2 separate regions of the Homo sapiens genome follow, and region 2 is linked to region 1. A link means that fine-mapping ties the variant in region 1 to the plasma level of a protein whose gene starts in the linked region. Region 1 holds a variant in brackets. A gene starts in the other region. All regions are shown on their forward strands. Region 1 holds the start of CAVIN4 (caveolae associated protein 4). Region 2 holds the start of MB (myoglobin).

What was found. A credible set is the group of variants that fine-mapping cannot tell apart. PIP is the posterior inclusion probability: the model's chance that the variant is causal. Protein levels are from antibody-based Olink assays in UK Biobank. Linkage for the fine-mapping came from a reference panel and not from the study's own genotypes, which makes the PIPs less certain.
Region 2: MB starts here. The variant in region 1 is the best candidate, but not a certain one, in a credible set for the plasma level of the MB protein (UK Biobank, PIP 0.59).

Annotation. Positions count from the first base shown.
Region 1 is chr9:100,573,478-100,584,687 of GRCh38, forward strand. It overlaps MSANTD3-TMEFF1 (MSANTD3-TMEFF1 readthrough), which reads left to right. Exons shown (of 10, transcript NM_001198812.1): 10 at 3,039-4,159. The coding sequence ends at 3,123. TMEFF1 (transmembrane protein with EGF like and two follistatin like domains 1) reads left to right here. Exons shown (of 10, transcript NM_003692.5): 10 at 3,039-4,159. The coding sequence ends at 3,123. CAVIN4 (caveolae associated protein 4) reads left to right here and starts at 4,602. Exons shown (of 2, transcript NM_001018116.2): 1 at 4,602-5,074. The coding sequence starts at 4,667. It also overlaps the pseudogene RN7SKP87. The variant G/A (reference allele first, on the strand shown) is at 7,642.
Region 2 is chr22:35,611,623-35,623,538 of GRCh38, forward strand. MB (myoglobin) reads right to left here and starts at 5,707. Exons shown (of 3, transcript NM_005368.3): 1 at 5,541-5,707. The coding sequence starts at 5,635. RefSeq lists a silencer at 418-467 and enhancers at 10,446-10,961, 11,620-11,914.

The sequences.
Region 1 (11,210 bases):
AAAGTCAGAGTAAATCCAGCAAGTTCGTGTTGTCTTTGTGCTTCCCAGTCTAATGCTTTTCTTCCTGCTTACCTCTTTCTTTAAGCTTCAGTTCAGAAGTCTCATAAGCATCATTTCTCCACTTCCCTGCATTATTCTGGGCAGAGGGTTGAAGCATATCAAATACAGATATTGGCAGGCCATAATGGATTTGTGGCCCTTCTATCCAAGGTCTGGATAGAAGCCAGACCTTCAGTAGTCTCAGCCATCTGGAGCTGAGATGATAAATCTAGAAATGATAAAAAAGAAAAGGTTCTCCAAGTAACAGATATTTTTCATAACACCTAGGCATGAAAGTCAGTGCGCTTTATTTCACAGAACAGATGATCTGCCCTTAGGCAAGACTACTGAATATAAAATTGGACGGTAGATCAAAGTAGGGACATAATCATGTAACAAATAATGATAACAGAAAGAGAAGATAGGGAAAACACATTTAACAGCATGACTGGCTGTAGCCATTTAATATAGACTCAGAGGTTAAGTAATTTGTCTGTGGTCATCCGACTAGTAAGTGGAATTGTCTGGATTTGGATTCAGTTTGATTCCCATTCATTCTTTACACTGAAAGGTTCCATGTTGAGTCATCTTGGGAAACATGTTTGCCCAGTATGACCATTGCATGGGAGCAGGGTTCAAACTTGATTTTGTAGCAGTTTAGGGTTTTTGAGCAGGGGAAGGACTTGGTATAAACCATATTTTTCAGAGTATTAATGAGTCATCTGAAAAATTCATTGGAGTAGTGAACATATGAGGTAGGGGGAAGACCATTTAAGTCATTATTAGAGTTAAATAGGAGTGAGGTAATGAATGATTTGGAAGGCAGAAGGAAAATTAAGGTAAAGTAAGGGGAGATGTTTGAGGCCTGGAGATAGTGCCTTTATTTGAGACAGGGTCTCACTCTGTCATTCAGGCTGGAGTGCAGTGGCATGATCTTGGATCATTGCAACCTCCACCTCCTGGGCTTATCTCAACCTCCCGAGTAGCTGAGACTACAGGCATGCGCCACCATGCCTTGCTAATTTTTGTATTTTTTTTTTTGTAGAGACTGGGTTTGGCCATGTTGCCGAGGCTGGTCTTCAACTCCTAGGCTCAAGTGATCCACCTGCCTCGGTCTCGCAAAGTGCTGGGATTGTGCCCAGCCAGATAGTGCCATTTTTAAGAGGATCAAAGGATGTCAGAGTCAATGAGAAACAATTCTGAGTTCAACCCCTTCATTTAGAGAAGTTGGGAAACTGAAGCCCTGAGATAAGAAGTACCTTGGTCTAAGGTCCTAGAGCTAGGAAAGCCCCCTTACAACAGTCTTTTACCCAACTCTTTCAGTGCTATAATGCTCAACTACTCAATTAAAATTACCTGGCAGGCAGTTTTGAAGTAGGTACCCTCTAGTTTATACTCCAGATCCCTCCTTGTTGCCCTCACAGCCACTTAGACATCACAGTGTATTTCTAACTATGTCACAGTGTCTTTACTGCCCACTGTCTCTACGATTGAAGAGTCATCTCATTGAATTTATCACAGATTTCTCCTGGAGGCCTGTCTTTTTATTATGGTATTTCCTCCCCTAGAATGTCTTGCTATCTTGGATTTAGAACATTTATGTACTTGGATTTATTTCCATTGAGTTTTTAAGTATCTCTCCCACACAGTCCATTATGAGACAGCTGTTGACATATACCGTGGCGGCTGTCACATGGGAGGAATCTTCTTTAAAAGGATGTTCCCACTGACCTGTTTATCAAGACTGCATGAGTCAATTTTTCTTTTTTTCTTCTTCTTGGAATCGCCTTTCATATTTTCAGACTCATAGAATGACAGATTGTCAGGAACCTTGAACATCACCTTAACTAAACGCCCTGATTTTATGGATTTAAAAACCATGGCACTAGGAAATTGGAATTTTTCCAAGGTCATGGTGAGTTAGTGACAGTACAAGAGGGTTGCTTGATCTGTCAGCTAGTTTTCTCATTTATGAAATGGAGATGATTCCAACTCTGTCTACCTCACACTTTTAAAATGAGGATTAGTGAGGTAAAACCATATACAAAATGGAAGTATTGTCAACACTTTTAGTCAAGGCAAAGCTGTACTCTTTGAAATCGAACGAAATGAGGAGTACTCATTGTTATAAGACTTTCTTTCCATTAGGTTGTAAATTTCTTGCTGGCAGAGATTTTGGAAGCTAGTCCAACTCCTAATTTATTTTTTACATATAGGAGAATTGAGGTTGCACAGTTAGTTATTAGCAGAGCCCAGAATTCGTCTTAGCCCCCTTACTCCACATTGCATAGCACAGCATCTTGTGTTTGCAATCTAGTGTGCAGGCACAAGAGCAGTTCCAACCCAGTGAGATTTGTACTGCTGTTGAGAAACGTGGTAAAATGAGAGCAGAGTTAAAGAATGTCCCTTATCCTCAGTGTGGCAGTTCCTTATGGGCTTCTGTGGTTTGCCCCAGGAGGGTGTGGACAGCTTCTTTTGAGTCATTGTCTAAAATCAGTAGACATTCCTATGTATTCATAGCTGAGGTTAATAAGCACACTTCTTCCTGATTTCTCCCTTCATCTAAGCTCTTCTTGTCATTTTAGAGCTGTCTTCTCATAATGCACAGGGAAAGTACATAGGCCAGAGTCCTTTCTCCTGTCAGGGGTTTCATGTTATCAGTCACTGTGACTAGGGAGTTTCTAGGCTGGAGGAAGGGTGGGATATCTGTCAGGGATGCATACATAGTAGCATAGACACTGGTAATGAGTTTTGCTTGTGCCAGTACCTATATTACATATCTAATCCTCTCAACTTCCAGGTTTGTAGAGGAGGTAGCAGTCTGAATTGTGTTCATCTTCATCTTGTCTTGCAACAGATACCATCTCATTTCCCTTTCATGTAATTGCTTGCAATGTGGCTTTATGTGCAAAATGTGTATTACTTTGGAAACATTTGAAATATCCTGAACAAAATCATCAAAACAATATTTTTCTCTCTTTCTTTTTTTAATGCAACAGAAAATGCCCCAAAAACAATAGAGGACGTCGACAGAAGCAAAACCTAGGTCATTTTACTTCAGATACGTCATCCAGAATGGTTTAAACTGATGACTTTTATATGTACACTGACCATGTGATGTACATTTATTATGTCTTTTTTTAAAGAATGGAAATATTTATTTCAGAGGCCTTATTTTTGGACATTTTTAGTGTAGTACTGTTGGCTCGTATTTAGAATATTCAGCTACGACAGTTTTGGACTGTTTAGTAGTCTTTGTTTTATGTTTTTAAATACAGAAATTGCTTTCACAAATTTGTACCACATGGTAATTCTAAGACTTGTTCTTTACCCATGGAATGTAATATTTTTGCAAAGATGGACTACTTCACAAATGGTTATAAAGTCATATCCACTTCTTCCACAATGACCACAGCAAATGACCAAGCATGAACTAAAGGTAAAGATGTTTACAGATTACTTTTCTTACAAAAAAAATCTAGAAGACACTGTGTTTAAATAGATATTTAAATGTTTTTGAGATTTAGTAACTGATTTTTTAGACACTGCCTATCGCATGAACTGTAAAGCTGTGTGTATTAGGTGTAAAATATTTATAAGATATATGGACTGGGGAATTTGATTATTCCTCCCTTTGAAAAAATAGTCCTAATAATTTGAACAAATATGTTAGTAATGATGGAACAGATCAATGAAAAGTAGATATAGATATTGTGAAAATAGGCTGTTTAACAAACAGATTGGAATAAAGCCTATTCTACCAGTTAAACTACTTTAATACACATTCATTTTTAAAGAAAATGTTTGTTTTAACATAAATAAACAAATCGTATCAGTGTTTGTGAATAAAATACAAAAATGATTGTTAATGATTGGTGCTCTTAAAGTGAGCTTAAAATTTATCCAAGACGTATATCCAAATTTGTCCTGTAGTAATAGATTAATATTCATAGATTGTTGGTGTTTAAAGATCTGAAGTGTGAGTAGAATGTATTCAGCTGTTTAACATGTAGTTTAGATATTCAAAAGTATGCATGTAGAATTTAAAGAATATGTTAAAAATTATTAATTTTAATATTTTGTTTGGAAAAGCATGTTATAATATAATGTTTTCACTATATGGCCTCTGTTTTGGTGTGTTTATTTACCAAATTTTTTGATATTGGTGTTTCAGTATATTTAATATGTGAAATTAGTAGAAAAAGCAGATTTCGGTTCAGAATTCCCCTTTACTGTTACAAATACTGATTGAAATTATCTAAAGGCAAAAGCTTTACCCAACATTTGGAGTTTGCTTTTTTGATCATTTGGCTTCTAGGTTTAATATTAGTTACATGGTGGCTTTAGTGAACTTTTTTAAAAAGCTTTACTCTTCTACCCACACAGTCTTATTTGAGTCCCTTAGTCAGTCAGCAAGCATGTTTGGAACAGTCCCCGGTGCTTTGCAAGGGTTCAGATTGCAGAACAGTCACATATGGGTATTTGTAGTTATAAATACTTGACCGTTCTCTAGGGGTGGGGTTTCCAACTCTTTAAACAACCCTGTTGCCTGTTATCAAGCTGACTTTTTGCTCCAAGTGCCAGAATTGATTGTGGTTAGGACATCTTACGCTGAGAAATAAATAAAATGGAACATAATGGGTCTGCTTCAAATGCTGATAAAATCCACCAGAATCGCCTGTCGAGTGTTACAGAAGATGAAGACCAAGACGCTGCTCTTACCATTGTGACTGTGCTGGACAAAGTAGCCTCCATCGTGGACAGTGTGCAGGCAAGCCAGAAGAGAATAGAAGAGAGACACAGGGAAATGGAAAATGCCATAAAATCCGTCCAGATTGACCTGTTGAAGCTTTCACAGTCGCATAGCAATACAGGGCATATCATTAACAAATTGTTTGAGAAAACCCGAAAAGTTAGTGCTCACATTAAAGATGTGAAAGCCCGGGTGGAGAAGCAACAAATTCATGTTAAAAAAGTTGAAGTCAAGCAAGAGGAAATAATGAAGAAAAACAAATTCCGCGTGGTAATATTCCAGGTAAGCTTGCACTTGTGTTCAGCTTGCTTGTTCTAATCTCTTGCATCTTTTAATTGCCAAAAGTCATATCAGAGGTTTCCAGTGTCACATCTTAACTATTGTATATATTAATACAATGGAGTTCTGTATTAGCAGCAATCTCAGGATAAAACCATTTCTCTGTTAACCAAAGTACTATCTGTCATTTCGGTATTTTGAGCTTCTCAACCATTTCATGTAATATGAACTGTGGCTCATAGCTTAGGCTATTTCTTGCCTTTGAAACTTAATATTGGTAAGGCCCTTTCAGCATATTAGCCTTATTAGCATGAAGCCCTCTCATAGACTTTGAAAATGTTAGAACTAGAAGAAGACTCAGAAGCCTCTAGTTTAAAACACTTCTTTGTTCTCTAAAAGAAGAAACTGACAACCAGTAGCAGTGGTTTTTTCTGCTTATATGGAGAGCCTGGAAAGGCCTAAACAGTAGATATAAACTTTTCAGAATGTGATTTGTGTATTGGAATTTTTACATATAGATCACAATGATAGCGATTTTCCAATGAACAATGAGGCAATTATTTTTCTTATTATTATAGTAATACAAATATATGAGTCACATAAGTAGTTTCCTATGTTTGATTACAAAGTCTTTTTACTTAAGTGATTTAATATAATATTTTGTGTGTGGCATTGTGTATTGAGCTAAGTTCCCATATTATTCTGCGCTTGGCACTCATATTTTTGGAAATAGGAACATATTTATGGCAAATGCATAATATCTATGGTATATTTTCAAAACTCTTACAGTTAAAAGGAAAAAAATTGAACATTCCTTCACAGTAGAAAAGTGGGAAACTGTCATTATCAGGCAGTTTACAAAACACAAATAAGAATAAAATTCTAATTTCACCTATTTAAATGTTGGCAGTTATTAAAACCTATACCCAGAGGTTAATTTAAGGATTGGGAAAAAACACTTTCATATTCTGTTGGTAGAAATATTAATTGATAAAACATTTTTGAAAGGCAGATTTGGTAGTATGTATTAAGAAATTTAAAAATTCACAAACTTTTTGGCCCCAAAATTTATGTCAAAGAATTTGTTCTATGCATAAAATCAGGAATGTGTGTAGGAATGTTCACTGATGCATATAAAGTGTTATTTTTAAAAATGACACCTGTATTTTAAAAATGAGTACTTATGTACATAGGAAAAAAACTAGAAGAATATAAACTAAATGAAATAGGAACACAGTTGGATTATGTAGAGGATAATTTGTAAAACACGAGGGATGTGGCCCATAACTCCCCGTGGCATTCTTTACACATTAGGCAATTCTCCATAGCCCTCTGTTGACTGATAAGGTTACACTGGGATGGTGGAGTGGTATTTTAGGTCTGTTTTTAAGAGCCTGTAGGTTATTTAGGAAAAGTAATAGGAGAGTGAAGAGTTGCTTATTTCAAAGGTAGATAGGGCAGACTATGCTATTTGAAGTTCTTTATCATTTCCCTTTCCTTTCATGTCCCTGGAAGTCCTTCTATAGGCTTAAAAATTTGGGAAAAAAAAAAAAAGCCTGGGCAATGTGGCAAAACCCTGTCTCTACAAAAATAGAAAAGTTAACCAGGTGTGTCGTCGCGTGCCTGTGTTCCCTGCTACTTAGGAGGCTGAGGTGGGAGGGTCACCTGTGGGGAGGTTGAGGCTACAGTGAGCCATGATTGTGCCACTGCACTCCAGCGTGGGTGATAGTGAGACCCTGTCTTAAGAAAAAAAATTGAAAAATTGAAAAAAAATCAGTCACCTGATTTTCAGAGGCCAGTTCCAGTGTTAGTATATGTAGTGGGAAATGTAGTATCCATTCTTTGATTTGCCTTCTGAAGATGTTCAGAATTGTGGGTATATCTTACCCTCCACTGGCATGGGCGCATGGCCAGGAAACATATTTGGCATTCACGACTGCTGAGAACTTTTGTGCAAAGCAGTGGACTAAGTGCCAATTAAGATTTACAAAAGCAAGAGCAAAGAAGTTTCTGAAAAGTTTCCATTGACTCTGTTGATTGACATAACTCTTCTTTAAACTTTAAGATGTTTCTGTATTCACCTGTTTAGTCCCTGTAACTTACTGCTAATTGTTCCTTTCTTTGATCCCTTGTAGTTATTTAAAGCAACTGAAGGGTGCTAGTTTAGGGCACATCTCTTCTCTTGTAAGAAATAATGCCATGAAGATTCTGCATAATTAAGTTGTTCAGAGTAGCAGCAGTTCGTCAAAAAGTAATTGCTATCATTTATAATGGAACAGCTCGTAGAGAAAAGAATAATGGACATAGAACTCTGATTCAAAGATTCATTAGATGTTAGAAAGCTGTATACATGGTCACATGGTTATTCTTAGCAGTTAAAATTAGTTATAATTAATCATCATAGTTAAGGTATATAAATGGTTATATTGAGATTGCTCCTTCTGCTAAAATTAACTTGAAACCAAGCAATTCAGCCATAGTAAAAATTACCTGCTATTTCTTATACATTTATTATTTCTTTTCGAACATACTATATCTTCACTAATAAGCCTCAGACTTTTGTATATTCA[G/A]AATTTCCCTAGCTATATTAGTTTGAGAGCTTGTTTGGAAGTTCTAGCAGGGGAGTGCAGCTGCTTGTATACCCTTGACCAAAGACTGGTCCTCCTCTATCGTGGATGGTCATCCTCTTCGACCAAGCGTGCGGCTTCGAGAGGGACACACATGGAGCGGTGAGGGAGGAAGGGGACACCCACTTAGCCCAGCCAGATCAGCTGAATCAACCCTGGCAATCAGTGGGTTAACAGATGTTGCAGCCAATCGCCCTCACATCCCATAGCTATATTAGTTTGATGTTCAATCCAGCCCACAGTACTCTGAAGCACAGTATTCATTCTGTTACAAAAATGGTCTTTTTACCTGGAGTTTTATATTAAAAGATACAATTATATTTGGAAGTCAACTATAATTCAACATCTACAATCTTCAGTTATTATAACAGTCTATTCACCATTAGCTCATGATGTCGCTGTCTCATTGGAGTTGCAACTAATAGATCTGCGTAACAAGTACTTTTTTCTGACTCTACTCCTGTTTTGTTTTACTTTAAAGCCTGATTTTATATTATTTGTTGTGTACTTAAAGGAGGGTATGTGATTCCTGGGCTAAGCTATATCTGATTTCTTCACAGCAAGATTGTGTTTTTTCCCCTATCTAACAGTAATTAACTTTTGGCTCTTTCGTTTTCTAATTATACCCTCTCAGGCCGTGCCAACCCACATTGTGTTGCTGAAGCTACTCCCTGCAGCAGGTGTCAGGAAAGGAGAGGAATAATTTCGCTGCTTCAAACTGATTCATCAGAGAGCTATGAGACGCCCACCCCTGCCTTTTTTAGCTCCTAGACTCTCTAATCCTATAGCCAAAGAATTTAATTTTAAATAAGTATCCAAAGAAATAAGGTTCCAGGGATATCTTCTTGACTATCAGGCTGATAGGTTTTGGAATATGCATAAATGTGTTTTGTATATATTTATATATTTTTTGATTGAATAGATTTAATCTGGATCTCACGTGGGGGCACAGTTTCTTTTAGAAATTTTAACTCGTGGTTCAGTTAAAAATCTCATGATTTTTCAACTTTTGTCTGTTTAGTTTGAGAAATGCTCCCTATTCAGTTGGGTTCCTCTAGCTGCTGTGGTTGGGCTGGCTCTCAAGGTTTCCAGTGTGTGTCATGTCCCAAATCCAATTCTCATCCTTATTCTTTTGACACATTTGACACGATTGGACCTCTTTCTCTCTCTCTCTCTCTCTCTTTTAAAGAGACAGGGTCTTGGTCTGTTGCCCAGGCTAGAGTTCTACGGTGCAATCATAGCTCACTGCAGCCTCCAACTGCTGGGGGCAAGCCATCTTCCTTCTTCAGCCTTCCAAGTAGTAGGGACTACAGGTGCGCATCACCTTGCCTGGCTACACTTTAAAATTTTCGTGGAGGTCTCACTTTGTTGCCTGGGCTGGTCTTGGCCTCAAGTGATCCTCCCACCTCAGCCTCCCAAAATGTTGGGATTATAGGCATGAGCCACTGCACCCAGCCCCTCCCTTTCTCCTTGAAACTTCTTTCCTCTTGACTTCTGGGGTTACTCCTCTCTTTGGGAGTTCCCCCTGCCTCACTGGCTGATATCTGTCCTTTTTTTTCTTTTCTCATTTCTTCCTTCTACCAGTCCAAAATCCATGCTCTGTAACACCCATATTCAAAAATTCTTTAAAATATTTTTTAATAACATATTTGACAGCAAGACCTAACTTGACCTGAAATTATTCAGTGGAAAAACCTGACCTAAAGTAGCAGGAGGCTATTTCTAGCTTTTATCCCAACTTAGTGTGAATATTCATATTTTTTTTTGCCACAGAAATGTTTCTTCCAAGATCTTGCTGGGAATGTTATGTAATAAATCATATTATTTCCAAAGTCTGAAATATTCTGAATTCTGAAACACACCTTGGTGCCAAGGAATTCTGAGTAAAACAGAGCATAGACCCATTCACTCAGTTTCTTGGTGATCTCTTTCATCTGGTCTCATGACTTTAATTCCATCTTTACATCAATGACTCCTAAATTTGGGTGTCTAGCCCAGCCCTCTCTTCTGAATTCCAGACTCATCTACTCAGCTGCCTGCTCAGTGCCTCTGCCTGCATGGCTAGTGGGTGTCTCCAAGACAGCGTGTTCAGATCCCATCCTTCCCCTCCAGTCTCTTCCTCCTGCTGTCTCCCCCATCTCAATTAATGGCAGATCTATCTTTCATCTGCTCAGGCCATGTACTTGAGGATTGTTCTTGACACTCTGGCACTCCACATCCAAATCTAGTGGCAAATCTTGTTGGCTCCTACCTTCAAAGCAGCTCCGAATCAGACTGCTTCTCACCCCCAACCTGTCAGCACCCTTACCCAGTGCTCCCTTGCCTCAGTGTTCTCCACCTGTTCTCCCTGCTTCTTTTCTTGCCCCTACACCCTGTTTTCAACAGAGTGATGCTTTTATAATGTGGGTCAAATCCTGGCACTACTCTCCTGCAAGCCATTTATTCATTCATTCATTCATTCATTCATTCATTCATTCATTCATTTTTTTTAGACAGAGTCTTGCTGTGTCACCCAGGCTGGAGGGCAGTGGCACAATCTCAGCTCACTGCAACCTCCGCCTCCCGGGTTCAAGTGATTCTCTTGCCTCAGCCTCCCGAGTAGATGGGATTACAGGCATGTCCCACCACACCTGGCTAATTTTTGTATTTTTAGTAGAGACTATTTTGCCATGTTGGCCAGGCTGGTCTCGAACTCCTGACCTCAGGTGATCCCCCTGCCTCGGCCTTCCAGAGTGTTGGGATTACAGGTGTGAGCCACTGCACCCGGCTTCCTGCAAGGCTTTTAGAAGACTTCCTCTTATGCTCAGACCTCACCATTGGATACAGAGCATTGCATGACCTGGACCACCTGCTATCTCTCTTACCCTCTTGCCTCCCCTTCTTGCCCTTTCATCACTCTGCTGTCACCACACGGCCCTCCCCACTGTTTCTCTGTTCTTCCCAGATCTATACACAGCCTTCAGGTCTAGGCTTAGATGTCACCGTATGAATGAGGCCTTTCTGACCACTGTAGTTCAAACAGCACCTTCCTTGTCGCTGCATATTCCCCTTCCCTGCTTTAGTTCTCACCTTAGTGTATATCTTGCCATCTAACATGCTATATAGATTTTACTTGTTTGTCCCTCTCCGAGAATATAAGCTCTTTCACTCTTTTGTCTTCAAAGAAGCTTCACAGTTTCTAGAACCAGAAAATTTACTGGTTTGTGGTGTTGCTTAATAACTTTGTTGAAGGAAGGTATACACCTGTTTGATCCAATAATCATTTATTGAGTATGCCTACTATGTGCAAGACACTCTGATAGATGCTGGGCATAAAACATAAATAAGACACATGATCTCTGCTTTCAAGGAATCTGGAGAAGACCTCTGGGAGATACATATTTTTGAGTAAAGCTTCAATTCAAACTGTGCTAAATGTTATAAACAGAGGTATGTATGTGTAAATTTGAGATAGAGTTAGCCACTTGAGGAAGTTGGGGACACTTGAATTGATTATTGAAGAAAGATTTCAT
Region 2 (11,916 bases), not on the chromosome of region 1:
TGTTTTGAGCCCAAGCTGTGACTCTCTGAACCTCCCAGTCCCCTCACTGTGCAGATGACGAAGGGTCCTGGTGGGAGCAACTCAACCCAGCCCTGAGACAGGCACCCACTCCTGCCAGGCACTCAGTGAGGTGCCCCAGAGGCCTCTGCTGGGACTCTGAGCAGCCACCTCCAGCTTTAGACCTCGGTCCTTCCTGCCCACCTCCAACTTTAGACCTTGGTCCTTCCTGCCCACCTCCAGCTTTAGACCTCAGTCCTTCCTGCCCACCTCCAGCTTTAGACCTCAGTCCTTCCTGCTGTGAGCAGGTGGGTGCTGGTTAAAGGGAGTCAGACCTGCCCTCTGGGTAGGAGTGAGTTTCCGCCTTTTACTCATGGAAGACCACAGAGATAAGTGGCCAAGGTCACTTGGCTAGCTAGCGGCAGAGCCCAGACCTAAACCCAAAATGGAACAGTTTCATAACTCCCACCCTTTCCCTTGTGCCACAGCTGAAATGTTTGGCACGGGCAACCCTGTCTGCCCAGGGCTCTCTCTCCTGTCTAATGGTTTCAGTTCCTTGAAAAGCTCCTCTTTTATGATACCCAGGCTCTGTGACATCCTTGTAAAAGTACACAGTATGTATTGTGGCCACACTCCAGTTTGCGCCCTGAGCCACCATGCCCAGAAGTTGTCACAAGGAAGCACCTGATCCCCGTAGTCTCCATCCCAGGGTTTTATGAGGAGGGTATTTCACAACCAGGATGCTGAGCTCCTCAACCTGAAAATGAGTTCATGGTTTTTTTGTTTTTTGTTTTTCTTTTTTGAGATGGAATCTGGCTCTGTTGCCCAGGCTGGAGTGCAGTGGTGCAATCTCTGCTCACCGCAACCTCCACCTCCTGGGTTTGAGCAATTCTCAGAATTCTCCATGTTAGGCAGGATGGTCTCGATCTCCTGACCTTGTGATCCGCCTGCCTCAGCCTCCCAAAGTGCTGGGATTACAGGCGCCCAGCCATATTAACTGATTTTAAAATCCTGATGGGGTAGACGCCATTTTGCAGAGGAAGAAACAGAGGCACCGAAAGACTAACTAGCTGGGGATTTAACCCAGGCAGTCTGGCTTCATGTCTATACTCTTGATGACTATTCGGACTTTGTTATTGTTACACAGAGATATTTACAGGCAAACTGATACCTACATGGACATGTATCAACACCTCACACGTGTACATGCATGCAGGCTCTCACAGATGTGTGTGCACACTCACATATGGGCCTGCACACTCACACAGAGGTACACATAAATATATCCCAGCACACGCCATACTCACCTGCACACACACACAGAGACACGCACAAGCCTGAACCACATACACTCCCTTCCCCCATGTTGGGCATGGTCTGCCGCCGTGCCCAACATTGCCACCTCGCTCCAGGACCTTATCCAAATCCTCGTGCGTCACTGACGGCTTGTCTCTGACACCTTTCATCCAAGGGTCCCTGAGCTCCTGACTATTATTATCTGGCGACAATGATCCTTGAACTCCCGCCTGACAGATGCAAGACCTGGCATGCACAGGCGATGGTCAGAGGTCAGGACGCTGAAAGCAGACTGTCTGAGGCAGAGCAGGGCCAAGAATTTGGGCCACAAGGCAGCTGGGGGTCTCAGACATTTTGGGGCCTGCCCCTGCCCTCTGATATCTAGGGAAGAGAACATGGGACTGACAGTTACGGAAGCTGAGTTCCGGTCCCAGTTCTGGCGCCAATGTGCTCTGTGATGTTGAAGTCACTTAGCCTCTCTGGATCATTGCTCATCCATATGTAAACCAAAAGGGTCTAGACCCGCCAATGCCTTTCTTTCCACTCAACACCAGACAGCCAGGGAGAGAGCTCATATTTACTTTATTAATATTTTTTTGAGACACGGTATTGCTCTGTTGCCCAGGCTGGAGTGCAGTGGTGTGATCTTGGCTCACTGGAGCCTCAATCTCCTGGGCCCAAGTGATCCTCCTACCTCAGCCTCCCGCGTAGCTGGGACTACAGGCACACACCACCACGCCCAGCTAATTTTGTTTATTTTTTGTAGAGAAGGGGGGTCTCACTATGTGGCTCAGGCTGGTCTCGAACTCCTGGACTCAAGCGATTCCCCGATCCTGCCTCCCAAAGTGCTGGGATTATAGGCCTGAGCCACCCCACCCCACCCCATATTTACTTTAAACAGCAGAGCAGAATCGGGCTAATTTGTCTCCCCGCAAGATCATTCCGGCACCACACAGCTGCCTGCCTCCTGTGGGCCCAGGCCTTGCAGCTAGGAGCCCCCCAGGCAGCCACAGAAGGCCATTCTCCTGGATTTGCCTGATCCGGAAAATGAACAGATGAAAGCCCCTCAGCCTGTGGAAATGGACGGAGGGCGTTTGCTCTAGTATTTCAGAAAGCCCCGCTGGCCTGTGTTTCCAGCTTCAACCCTGCTGTCAGTGGGCCTGGTTCATCAGACAGATCTTCAGTCCAAGTCAGAGAGAAGGGAGGCCATTTTCCTGCTGTTCTCTGAACTGAGGCCCAATTGGACACTCACATGGAACATGGAGCACATTGTCAGATCCATGAACACCCCTCTGGCTCTACTAGAATAAAAGAACCAGAGCGTGGGTGGCAGCCCGTCTTGCGTGTGGCAAGGTCATGGGGCAGTATAGCATAGTGGTCAAGAGCAAGGATTCTGGGCCGGGCTCATTGGCTTGTAATCCCAGCACTTTGGGAGGCCAAGGCGGGCAGATCACCTGAGGTCAGGAGTTCGAGACCAGCCTGGCCAACATGGCGAAACCTAGTCTCTACTAAAAATACAAAAATTAGCCAGGCATGGTGGCATGCACCTGTAATCCCAGCAAGACTCCATCTCAAAAAAAAAAAAAAGGAGCAAGGATTCTGGATCCAAGCTGCCTGAATTTGAATTCCAGCTCCTTTCTTACTTGCTGTGTGACTTGGCGTAAGTTACTTAACCTCTCTGTTAAATGTGGTGATCATAATCATATCTACCTCATAAGATTGTTGTCAGGCTTCAGTGAGTGAAACACTTAAACAGAGCCCAGCAATCAGTATGTGCTGAATAAATGGTTGCTGTCTTTCTCCTCCTCATCATCTCTACCATTATCATTATCATTATCATTATCATCACCATCACCCAGGAATTTTTGGTCCTGCCTGTGGCTGCCATTAACCGGTGGAGACTCTCAGGCCCAGTTCCTCCCTGTAATGAGAAGTAGTGACCACCACTGGTGATTTTCAAACATTTTATGACCTTGAAATCCTTTGTTCCCCCCGCTCCCCAAAACAGCCAAAGTAAATAAAACAAAAAAGGTTTGAGTAAAGAAAGGAAAAACAGGGGTGTGGAGCCCACTCAGCAGCCCCCTCCCTTCCGAAGCCCCACTCCTGGAGCCAGAATCTCCAAGTGACCTTCCAGCTTCTGTGTTCTAGAATTTTATGTTTGTGTACGTGCAGTGAAGGCCTCAGTGTTTTACAGACTGGGCTTCATGGAATTTGCCCTCTTTTACAATCAGAAGATTGGAGACATAACCTTTCAAGGTCAGTTAGAAAATCCAGAGTCAGTATCTAGAACAAAGTCAAGATGCCAACTCTCACGGGTGGCATTTGCAGTCCTGGGCATGAGCCTCCTCCACCCTGCCCCCAGGGAGGCCATCCTCCCTGTACCCCAAATACTGAGAGGGCAGAACCAGCTGGCACAGTCTCTGCATGTCCCACAACCTAAGACGTGACAGGGCACCAGGCCTCTGGGACCTTTCAGGGACCAGCAACCCTAGGCATTATGTCTTATCCCTGGCTCCCGGCCCCCGGCAAACCTCCGTGATCCTCCCTGATGATGCAACACCCTGAGTCTCTTTCAAGACGTACAAGTCACTGCCTTAGGTCTGGCAGCTCCCAAATCACCTTGGAAAGACCTCTGCTCTGCAAACTCTGGTCTCCTACCTCCACGCCTGACTGTCCTGCCTCCTCGCCAAAGGCAAAAGTGCATCAAGGACTCAGAGAATTCTAGGGCATGAGCGTGGGACGGGATCTCGGAGACCATGGAAGACAATCCCTTCGCTCAACCAGCAGAGAAATAAGGCCCAGAGGTGGAGAGACTTGTCCAAGGTCACATGGCATATCTGTGGCCCAGGAGTTGATGTCAATTTGTGTGTGTGTGTTGGTCGGGGGAGCACTTTGTGCAATCCAACAGGGCCTGTTGCAGCCAGATGACAGGGACAGGAGAAGAAAGACATAAACACACTACGATGCCATTACAGTCAACAGAAAACTCAACTCTTCTTCCTCAAGTGTTTCTAGCACGGATCACCAACGGCTCAAATTTTAGATAACGGAGCTTCCAGGACCAGCCATGCTCCCGAGGTAGACGGAAGCTGGAAATGGGTAAAGCCCAAGGGAGACCCAAAGGACGACGGAGTGGAAGAGGAAAATTGGCTCTGGCTCACAAATAAGGAGAAATTAATCTGCAAATTAAAGTGCCAAAGACAATCCATTCACTTGTGGCAACCCCGGCGCCCACTTCCTTCCTCCCGTTGGCAGAAACGTTGATTCTTAACCTATTAGACTTCTGAGGGAACCAGCTCAGAATGGTGAGGGAAGGGGCCAAGAGAAGAGTGTATCACCTTTGGGATAGAAGGCAACGAGGAGATGAGCTTCTATGTACAAACCACAGCCACCCTCTATTTACAAACCTCAGAATTTTGTTTTCTTTGGTGTATTCTGGAATCCCTTGTGGTAGAAGGCAGGATATACTTGCAGACCACATCATTCAGACCTCTCAAACTAGAGACATACTCAACATCGAAGGTCACTAATGAGCCTCTATCTTCTGTTCTCTAATTGCAATGCTTTGAAAGGTCCCTAGCCTGGGCTTCATCAGTAATAGCTACTAACATTTCTAGGACTCAGTATATGCCAGGAACCATGCCAGGCCTCTTGCATGCATTATTTTATTTAATTCTCACATCTCCTCTAGGATATAGATATTAGGATATCCCCTCACTGTACAGGAGAGGAAATTGAGGCTCCGAGAGGTTGAGTACTTTCCCAAAGGTCACCCAGTGGCTCAGTGGCAGAGCCAAGTCTAGAACCAGATCTGTCTCCCCTTGAAGAGCATGTCTTAACCTTGACACTTTAAGAGCATTTAATGAGCTGTGACTCTGGAAATGTCCTCCCCTTCTCAGTCCCTTTTTGTCCTCATCCTGTAAGAGAGGTGGCTGTACAAAATCTCTCAGGACCCTTGTTAACTCTGACTGTCTATAATTCTAAAATTCTTCCTGGTGGACTCTGAGCATCCTAGGTTTGATTCTCATGCTTCCTCCAGCTGCTGACATCAGCCTGAAATGGCTCCTTTCCCTCTCCTGAGTCCAATCCCTGACACTTAAAAGCAAAGAAAAAGCAAGTGACCGTTCTAACACCCTTAACTAATGCAGCCAACTGACCTACCCCACGTGCAAACTTTCCACCTTGCAGCTGAACACCCTTGATCTTAGGGTGTGGGTGGCAGGGGCAATGGAATCTCTTCCTTTTACCTGATGAGGACTTCCTGCCCATGGCCTGGGATGTCAGCCTCCACCTTCCCCCAGACGTTCAGCACCAACTGCCATTCCCCGTCGCTGAGCCCCATGGCGCAGTCTGAAGAAGACAAAAAGAGCAAGTATGGGCTCACTGGGTGTCCTGGCCCCAACAGCTGGGGTTTGAGGCTGCCTGGTCCCAAGGGCGTTTTTATACCTTCTGGGATGCTTGACAAAGATCGCTCAATGGCTCGCTGTCCCCCTCCCCTGCCCTCCTTCACTTTCTCTCTCTCATCCAGGGAGGGTCTAATCTTTTCCTTTCTCTAGCCCTCACATGGGAAGCTATTTTAGGGCAGGTGCCATTGTGGCGAGGCAGGACAGCTCAGGCCACAGGGGGTGGGGTGGTTGTGCGTGTGGAAAGAAGGGGAGGAGGTTGGGCACTGTCTGGACTCTCATAGCCGACAGAAAGGGCACCACAGAAGCCGACGCCAGCAGCCTGAAACCCAACGCTCCCTGCGGTCAGCCCTCCCAAGAGGACCTGTCATGTTTCTAAGCTTGGCCACCAGGTGCCCCGGCTGGCCCCAGGACAGTCCTGGCCATTCGCAACCTCTCACGCACCTTCTGCCCCTTTGCCAGAGACCCCTCACCCAGCCAGAAGTGACAGAAAGGAACCGGATGGTTTTGTGCTTATAGCCAGGTGGTCCCAGGCAAGTCCACAATCTCTTAGAGAACTCCTGTTTTCATGACCCTGCTCAAAGGTTTCCCTCTGAAAAGTTTTTCTTGACATACTCCTTTGAGACACCACTAATTGCTTCCTCCTTTCCTTTCTTTGTGTAAGTTCCTGTTGCATTGCTTCCCAAAGGGCATCCTATTTCCTGGTTTTCATGCCATCTTCTCCATTAGGATAATAGCAGCCAGCACTCACAAGAGACTTTGCTGGGTGCCAGGCCCTGTCCCAAACACTTGGCATTTGGTAACTCATTTAATCCCCGCAAGACCTCCCAATGTGATAGGTACTGACATTATCCCTATTTAATTGAGAGAAAGTAGGGAAACATCACTGATGTACAACTAGTCGCTGGCAGAGTTGGGATTTGAACTCAGGAAGCCACGCCCCTTTCTTTGCAGTTTTCAGGAGGGCAGGAGCTCTGTTTTATTAACCCACGTATCTCTTGGGCCTCACATGGTGCTTTGTGCCAAGTTTGAACTGAATAAATGTTTATTGAGTAAATGGGTGGATGGTTTTGCAAAGAAAGAGAGTGGAGGATGATTAGCCTTATCTTACATCCATGCATCCTCCTTCAATCCATTCAGGTATTCAACCATCTATCCATTTATCCACTTGTCCATCCAGTTACTCATCCATCCATCCATCTGTCATCCCTTAATTCATCCATCCATCATCTCTTTGTCTATCCATGCATTCACTCATCTATCCATCCACCACCCATCCATCCAACATCTATCAATCCCTCCATCTATCCGACATCCCTTAATTCATCTATTCATCTATCCATCATCTCTTTGTCTATCCAGGCATTCATTCATCTATCCATCCACCCATCCATCCAAAATCCACCAGTTCCTCCATCTATCCATCTATCCATCCATCCATGTGTTCATCCATCCATCCCTCAATTCATTCATCCACCCATCATCCCTCCATTCATCCATCCACCCATCCCCTCATTCATCCATTCATTATCCCTCCATTCATCATCCCTCCCTCCATCCATCTATCCATCCATCACCCACCCATCCCTCCATCTATCTATCTGTTCCTCCATCCCTCCATCCATCCATCCACCCATTCCCTCATTCATCCACTCATTATCCCTCCATTCATCATCCCCCCTCCATCCATCTATCCATCCATCATCCACCCATCCCTCCATCTATCCTTCTATCCATCTGTAACTCCACCCATCCATCCATCCCTCTCACAGTGATAGAGCACCTACTGTGTGTCAGACACTGCTACATGCTGAGGATAACAAAATCAAATAAAACACCTTCCTGTGTTCAAGGAACTCAGAGTCTTTTTAGGGAGATAACTAAGAGGAATGAAAATACAGTACAGTTTGTTTAGTGCTATGATCAAGGTAGGCACAGGCCCTTCCTTCCATCTGCATAAGACTATACAGTTTACAAAGTGGCTGCTTGGCAAGATTACATCTAATCTTTACAACACCTCTGTGAGGTAGCGAGCACCACCCCGCTTTACAGCTGTGGGAGATGAGATTCAGAAAGGATAAGCCAGTGTTTGGGCCATCCTGGGTCTGCACTGGATTTGTCAGTAATGACTGCCCCACCTACACAGCTTTTTGAAGATAACTGCCCTGCCCCAATCTTGCTGAGGTGCAGGTGTAGCCAGTCATGTTCTGGGACACACAGTTCTCCCGCAAACCTGCTGCCAGTCACAGCCAAGCTGAGAAAGCCAATGTCAGGGCTCCATCTGAATAGTCAGCATCTACTAGCTCTGCCAGTCAGATCCCAGCTTCAGAATGTGAACAGAGATGTTTGGTAAGAATTGGACAAATAATAGGAAATGTAGCTAGAAAAAGAGTTAAATTCAAAGAATCCCCAAACTTGGAGTTCCCCAGTGCAACTTTGGGTCAGAACGCCCTCTGTGTGGGTCTCTAAAGCCTGGCTGGTGACCATTCTAGGATTGCCATGAGCCGCCACTCCCTGGAGGAGCCTTGTGTCTCCATTCAGTGAGTCCTGTGTACTGAGTCGGCTGACTCCTAGCGACCAAAAGGGTCAGAGGCACCGGCTGCACCTCTGGCGCCCCTTCCCTAGTGACCATTCCAGAAGTCAACCCCAAATGCTAGGCCAGCCGACCTCCAAAGGCCCATCTCTTTAGCAGTGGAAGAAGCAGTAACAAAATAAGTAGCTAAAATGCCATGGGGGGCCGGGCGTGGTGGCTCACGCCTGTAATCCCAGCAATTTGGGAGGCTGAGGTGGGTGGATCACAAGGTCAAGAGATCGAGACTATCCTGGCTAACATGTTCAAGCCCTGTCTCTACTAAAAATACAAAAATTAGCTGGGCATGGTGGCACGAACCTGTAGTCCCAGCTACTTGGGAGGCTGAGGCAGGAGAATCACTTGAACCCGGGAGGCAGAGGTTGCAGTGAGCCGAGATCGCTGTACTCCAGCCTGGCAACAGAGCGAGCCTCCATCTCAAAAAGAAAAAAAGAAGCCATGGGGATGCCAAAGGGGATCTCATTCATTCATTCAGTCAGTCAGTCATCTGTTTGTTCCTTTGTTCATTCATTCATTTGAAAGCCCATTACTGAGGCCCCAGTCTGTGCCAGGCCCAGCCTCAGAAGGAAAGACAACTCTGAGAGGGTCTGCCCCGGTCTCAGACTCTCAGCAGTTTGACCCTTACTGCTGGTCACTCGCTGGAGGTGAGTCCAGGGTGTGAGAGAGGAGGGCAGAAAGAAGGAGATGGCATTGAGCTGTGCCACATCTGACCTGGGGCCCCCTGCCTGGTGCGCTGGGGAAGGCCAAGAGGCAGATCTGAGACTCCTGGAGATTGAGACGCAATGTGCGGTTTTCAAATGCTCTCTGGCCTGTGCCCTCCCGAGAGTGTCAGAACACCCCTGAGGGTGCGGGGCAGGGCAGGGCTGATTACTACCCGAATCCCAGCTCTTCTCCCGTCTCTGGCCTCCTGAGTTGTCTGGGGATGGCCTGAGCATTTAAAATCTCATCAACCCATTACTGATGCTGAAATGTTTAATATGAAGCTATCACCCGCTTGGCAAGCGCCCCCATTAACTGGCATGCTCATGGAAACCTGTAGCTTTGAAGTTGATGGACCTTTTAAGTTTTACCATTTAAGCTAATGGGAAGGCACCGACATCTGTTTGTACTCACACATCTCTACAACAGAGCAGCGTTACCTCACAGTTGCTATGGCTACCTGGAGTCACCAGCTCTGTTTGGGGGCTATTATTATCCCTGTGACAGCCTTCATTATGGCCAGGGCAGAGAAGCTGCAGACACATGATAGGAAAGCCAGGCTGCCTTTGTGTGCAAAACTTTCTACAGCCTTACACGCTCATGCTACACACACGCACACACACGCACGAATGCAGGGCACATTAGTCTGATACCCAGTGGGGCAAAACTGGATCCCACCAAGTCAGACCTCCTCTTTTTCCCTTTCATATCACAGGATCCTTTGAATCCAAAACTGAGACTTGTAGAATCATCCTCAAGGCTCCCAATTCTGGAATCTTGAGATCCCAGAATTAAAATTCTAGAGTGTCAAAGTCTTCAACTTTTCAGCACCGGAGAAACTTGGGTTCTAGATTCCAGACTTATAGAGAGCTAGAAGCAGAGAAATCTAGAATTATAGGGCCATAGTATCTTGTGACTAAAAGAGGCCTTCAACGGTATTTTGTCCAATTTCCCACTAAACATAGTTTTCCCTACAGATCATCATCTGGCATCTGCTTGAATACTCCTGGGAGTGGTGAGCTCACTACCTAAAGCTTTAAAAATCCTTTTTTATGTCGAACCAAAAGATGCCTCCATGTCACGTGCACTTCCTTGCGGCAGCTCCGCCTGCTCCTTGGGGATATAGAGGCCCAGCTGAGTCTGCCTCACAAGAGAAGGAGCAGGCTCACCCAAGACTTTTCTTGTCCAGACTGAACATCCCAGGACTTCCACTGAGCACCCTCCCCAGGCAAGGCAAGTCGGGGGCCTCAGTCTGGTGGAGAAAGACGGGCTCTGCCATCTTCGGTCTCCAGCCACTCTCACCTCTGGTCACATGCACACAAAGAGAACGCTATAGCAAAGGGGATTCCAGCACCCACCTGCACAGGTTTGAGCCCCTCAGGCAGCTGTGCACCTGGCCCACAGTTTTTATGGTCAGAAAATCCAATCTAGGTGACCTAGGAATTTGCTAGCCCTTGGACAGCTGACAATTCCCTTTGGTAAATCTGGGCTTAAGACACCACCAAGGGAGATCAAAGATGTGGCAAGAAGGAGAACTCTGGCTCCTCAAAGCCAGGACTCCCCACGATCTTCACTACTCTCTTCCTCCTCCTTCTGGGAACCAGCCTTTGGAGGCCAGTCTGGGCAGTGCCTCCCTCCTGCCAGCAGGCCCTCCCACCCCACCCCCAGCTTAGCTTGTGCCTCCCTGGCAGAGTCTACCCTCCTGGACCAGCGCCAGGCCAGGGCTCAGAGCAGGGCTGAGGCCTGGGAGTTGCAGGACCTGCTCAAGGCCCTTGATGGGGCAGCAGAACCCCCAAGCTTGCTCCAGACTCCCAGGAACCCACCCACCAGGGCTGCTCCTCTCCAGCCCCTCAGCATCCATCATACTGACCACAGCTCCCCTTCTCCCCAGCTGTCCTCGCAGAGCCTCCAGCCAAGCGGCCAGGGCTGGGGGTGGGGAGAGGTGTCTTATAGCAGCCGGGGAGAGGCACAGGGAACTAAAAATACAGTTTACATGGCAAGGCTCCTCCTCTCCCTGCAGGCCCAGAGGGGCTTATTGGAGGAGGGCTGGCAGGGACACAACATCCTAATCCCTTAGTCAACAGGTGTGGCCTGGGACACCGACCTGCCTCCCCCCTCCACCCTCCCCAGCCTTGGAGGCTCCGAGTGGCTCCTCCAGCTCCACCATCCACCTGTCACCTGGACAGAGACCAGCCCCGCCTCCACAGTCACCTAACCCCACATCCACCCATCCTCCCCTTCCTTCAAGGCCCATTGCATAGGAACGGCTCCCCTGCCAGGACTCCTCCCACCCCGCTCTACCCATTCCCAGCAGATGTGCCCTCTTCCCCACTCTGGCTCCAGCATGGGTGCAGCCTTCTCATCTCTCTTGCTTTGGGGTGCACCTGTCTGGACTGGCTTCTCCCCATTTCTACCCTGTGAGTGCCTCAGAGGCAGGAATATAAAAGCCACAAACTCATATTGTACTTAGTGCACACCAGGGACACCCCTCCTCCCAGCAGCCCTTTCTTTTGCAGGAGACACTTTTACAAGCGTCACTTTACACTTGAGAGAACTGAGGCACAGAGAAGTTAAGTAACTTACCCAGAGTCACACAGCGAGGAAATACCAAGCCCAAGATTGGGACCCAGGTAGTCTGGCTTCAGAGTCTCTGCTTCATGGCTAAGAACTGGTCTAATTTGGAGTCCTTCCCCCTCACTCTCTCACCTGCTCTACAGTACCTAGCAAAGGACCAGGCCAACATGCTCTTTGATTGTTTATTTTTGGATTGAGTCTGCCCAGGGTTTTGGCTTGCTGGAGGCAAAGGCAAAGACAGTCGGTGACCTTGCCCCAGGGCTGACAACGGGTGCCCTACTGCCATCTAGTGGCAACAAGGAAAAAAGCCTGCACCTCTGCCCTTCCATCTGGGCTCTCCAGTCCCTCAACCCAGCC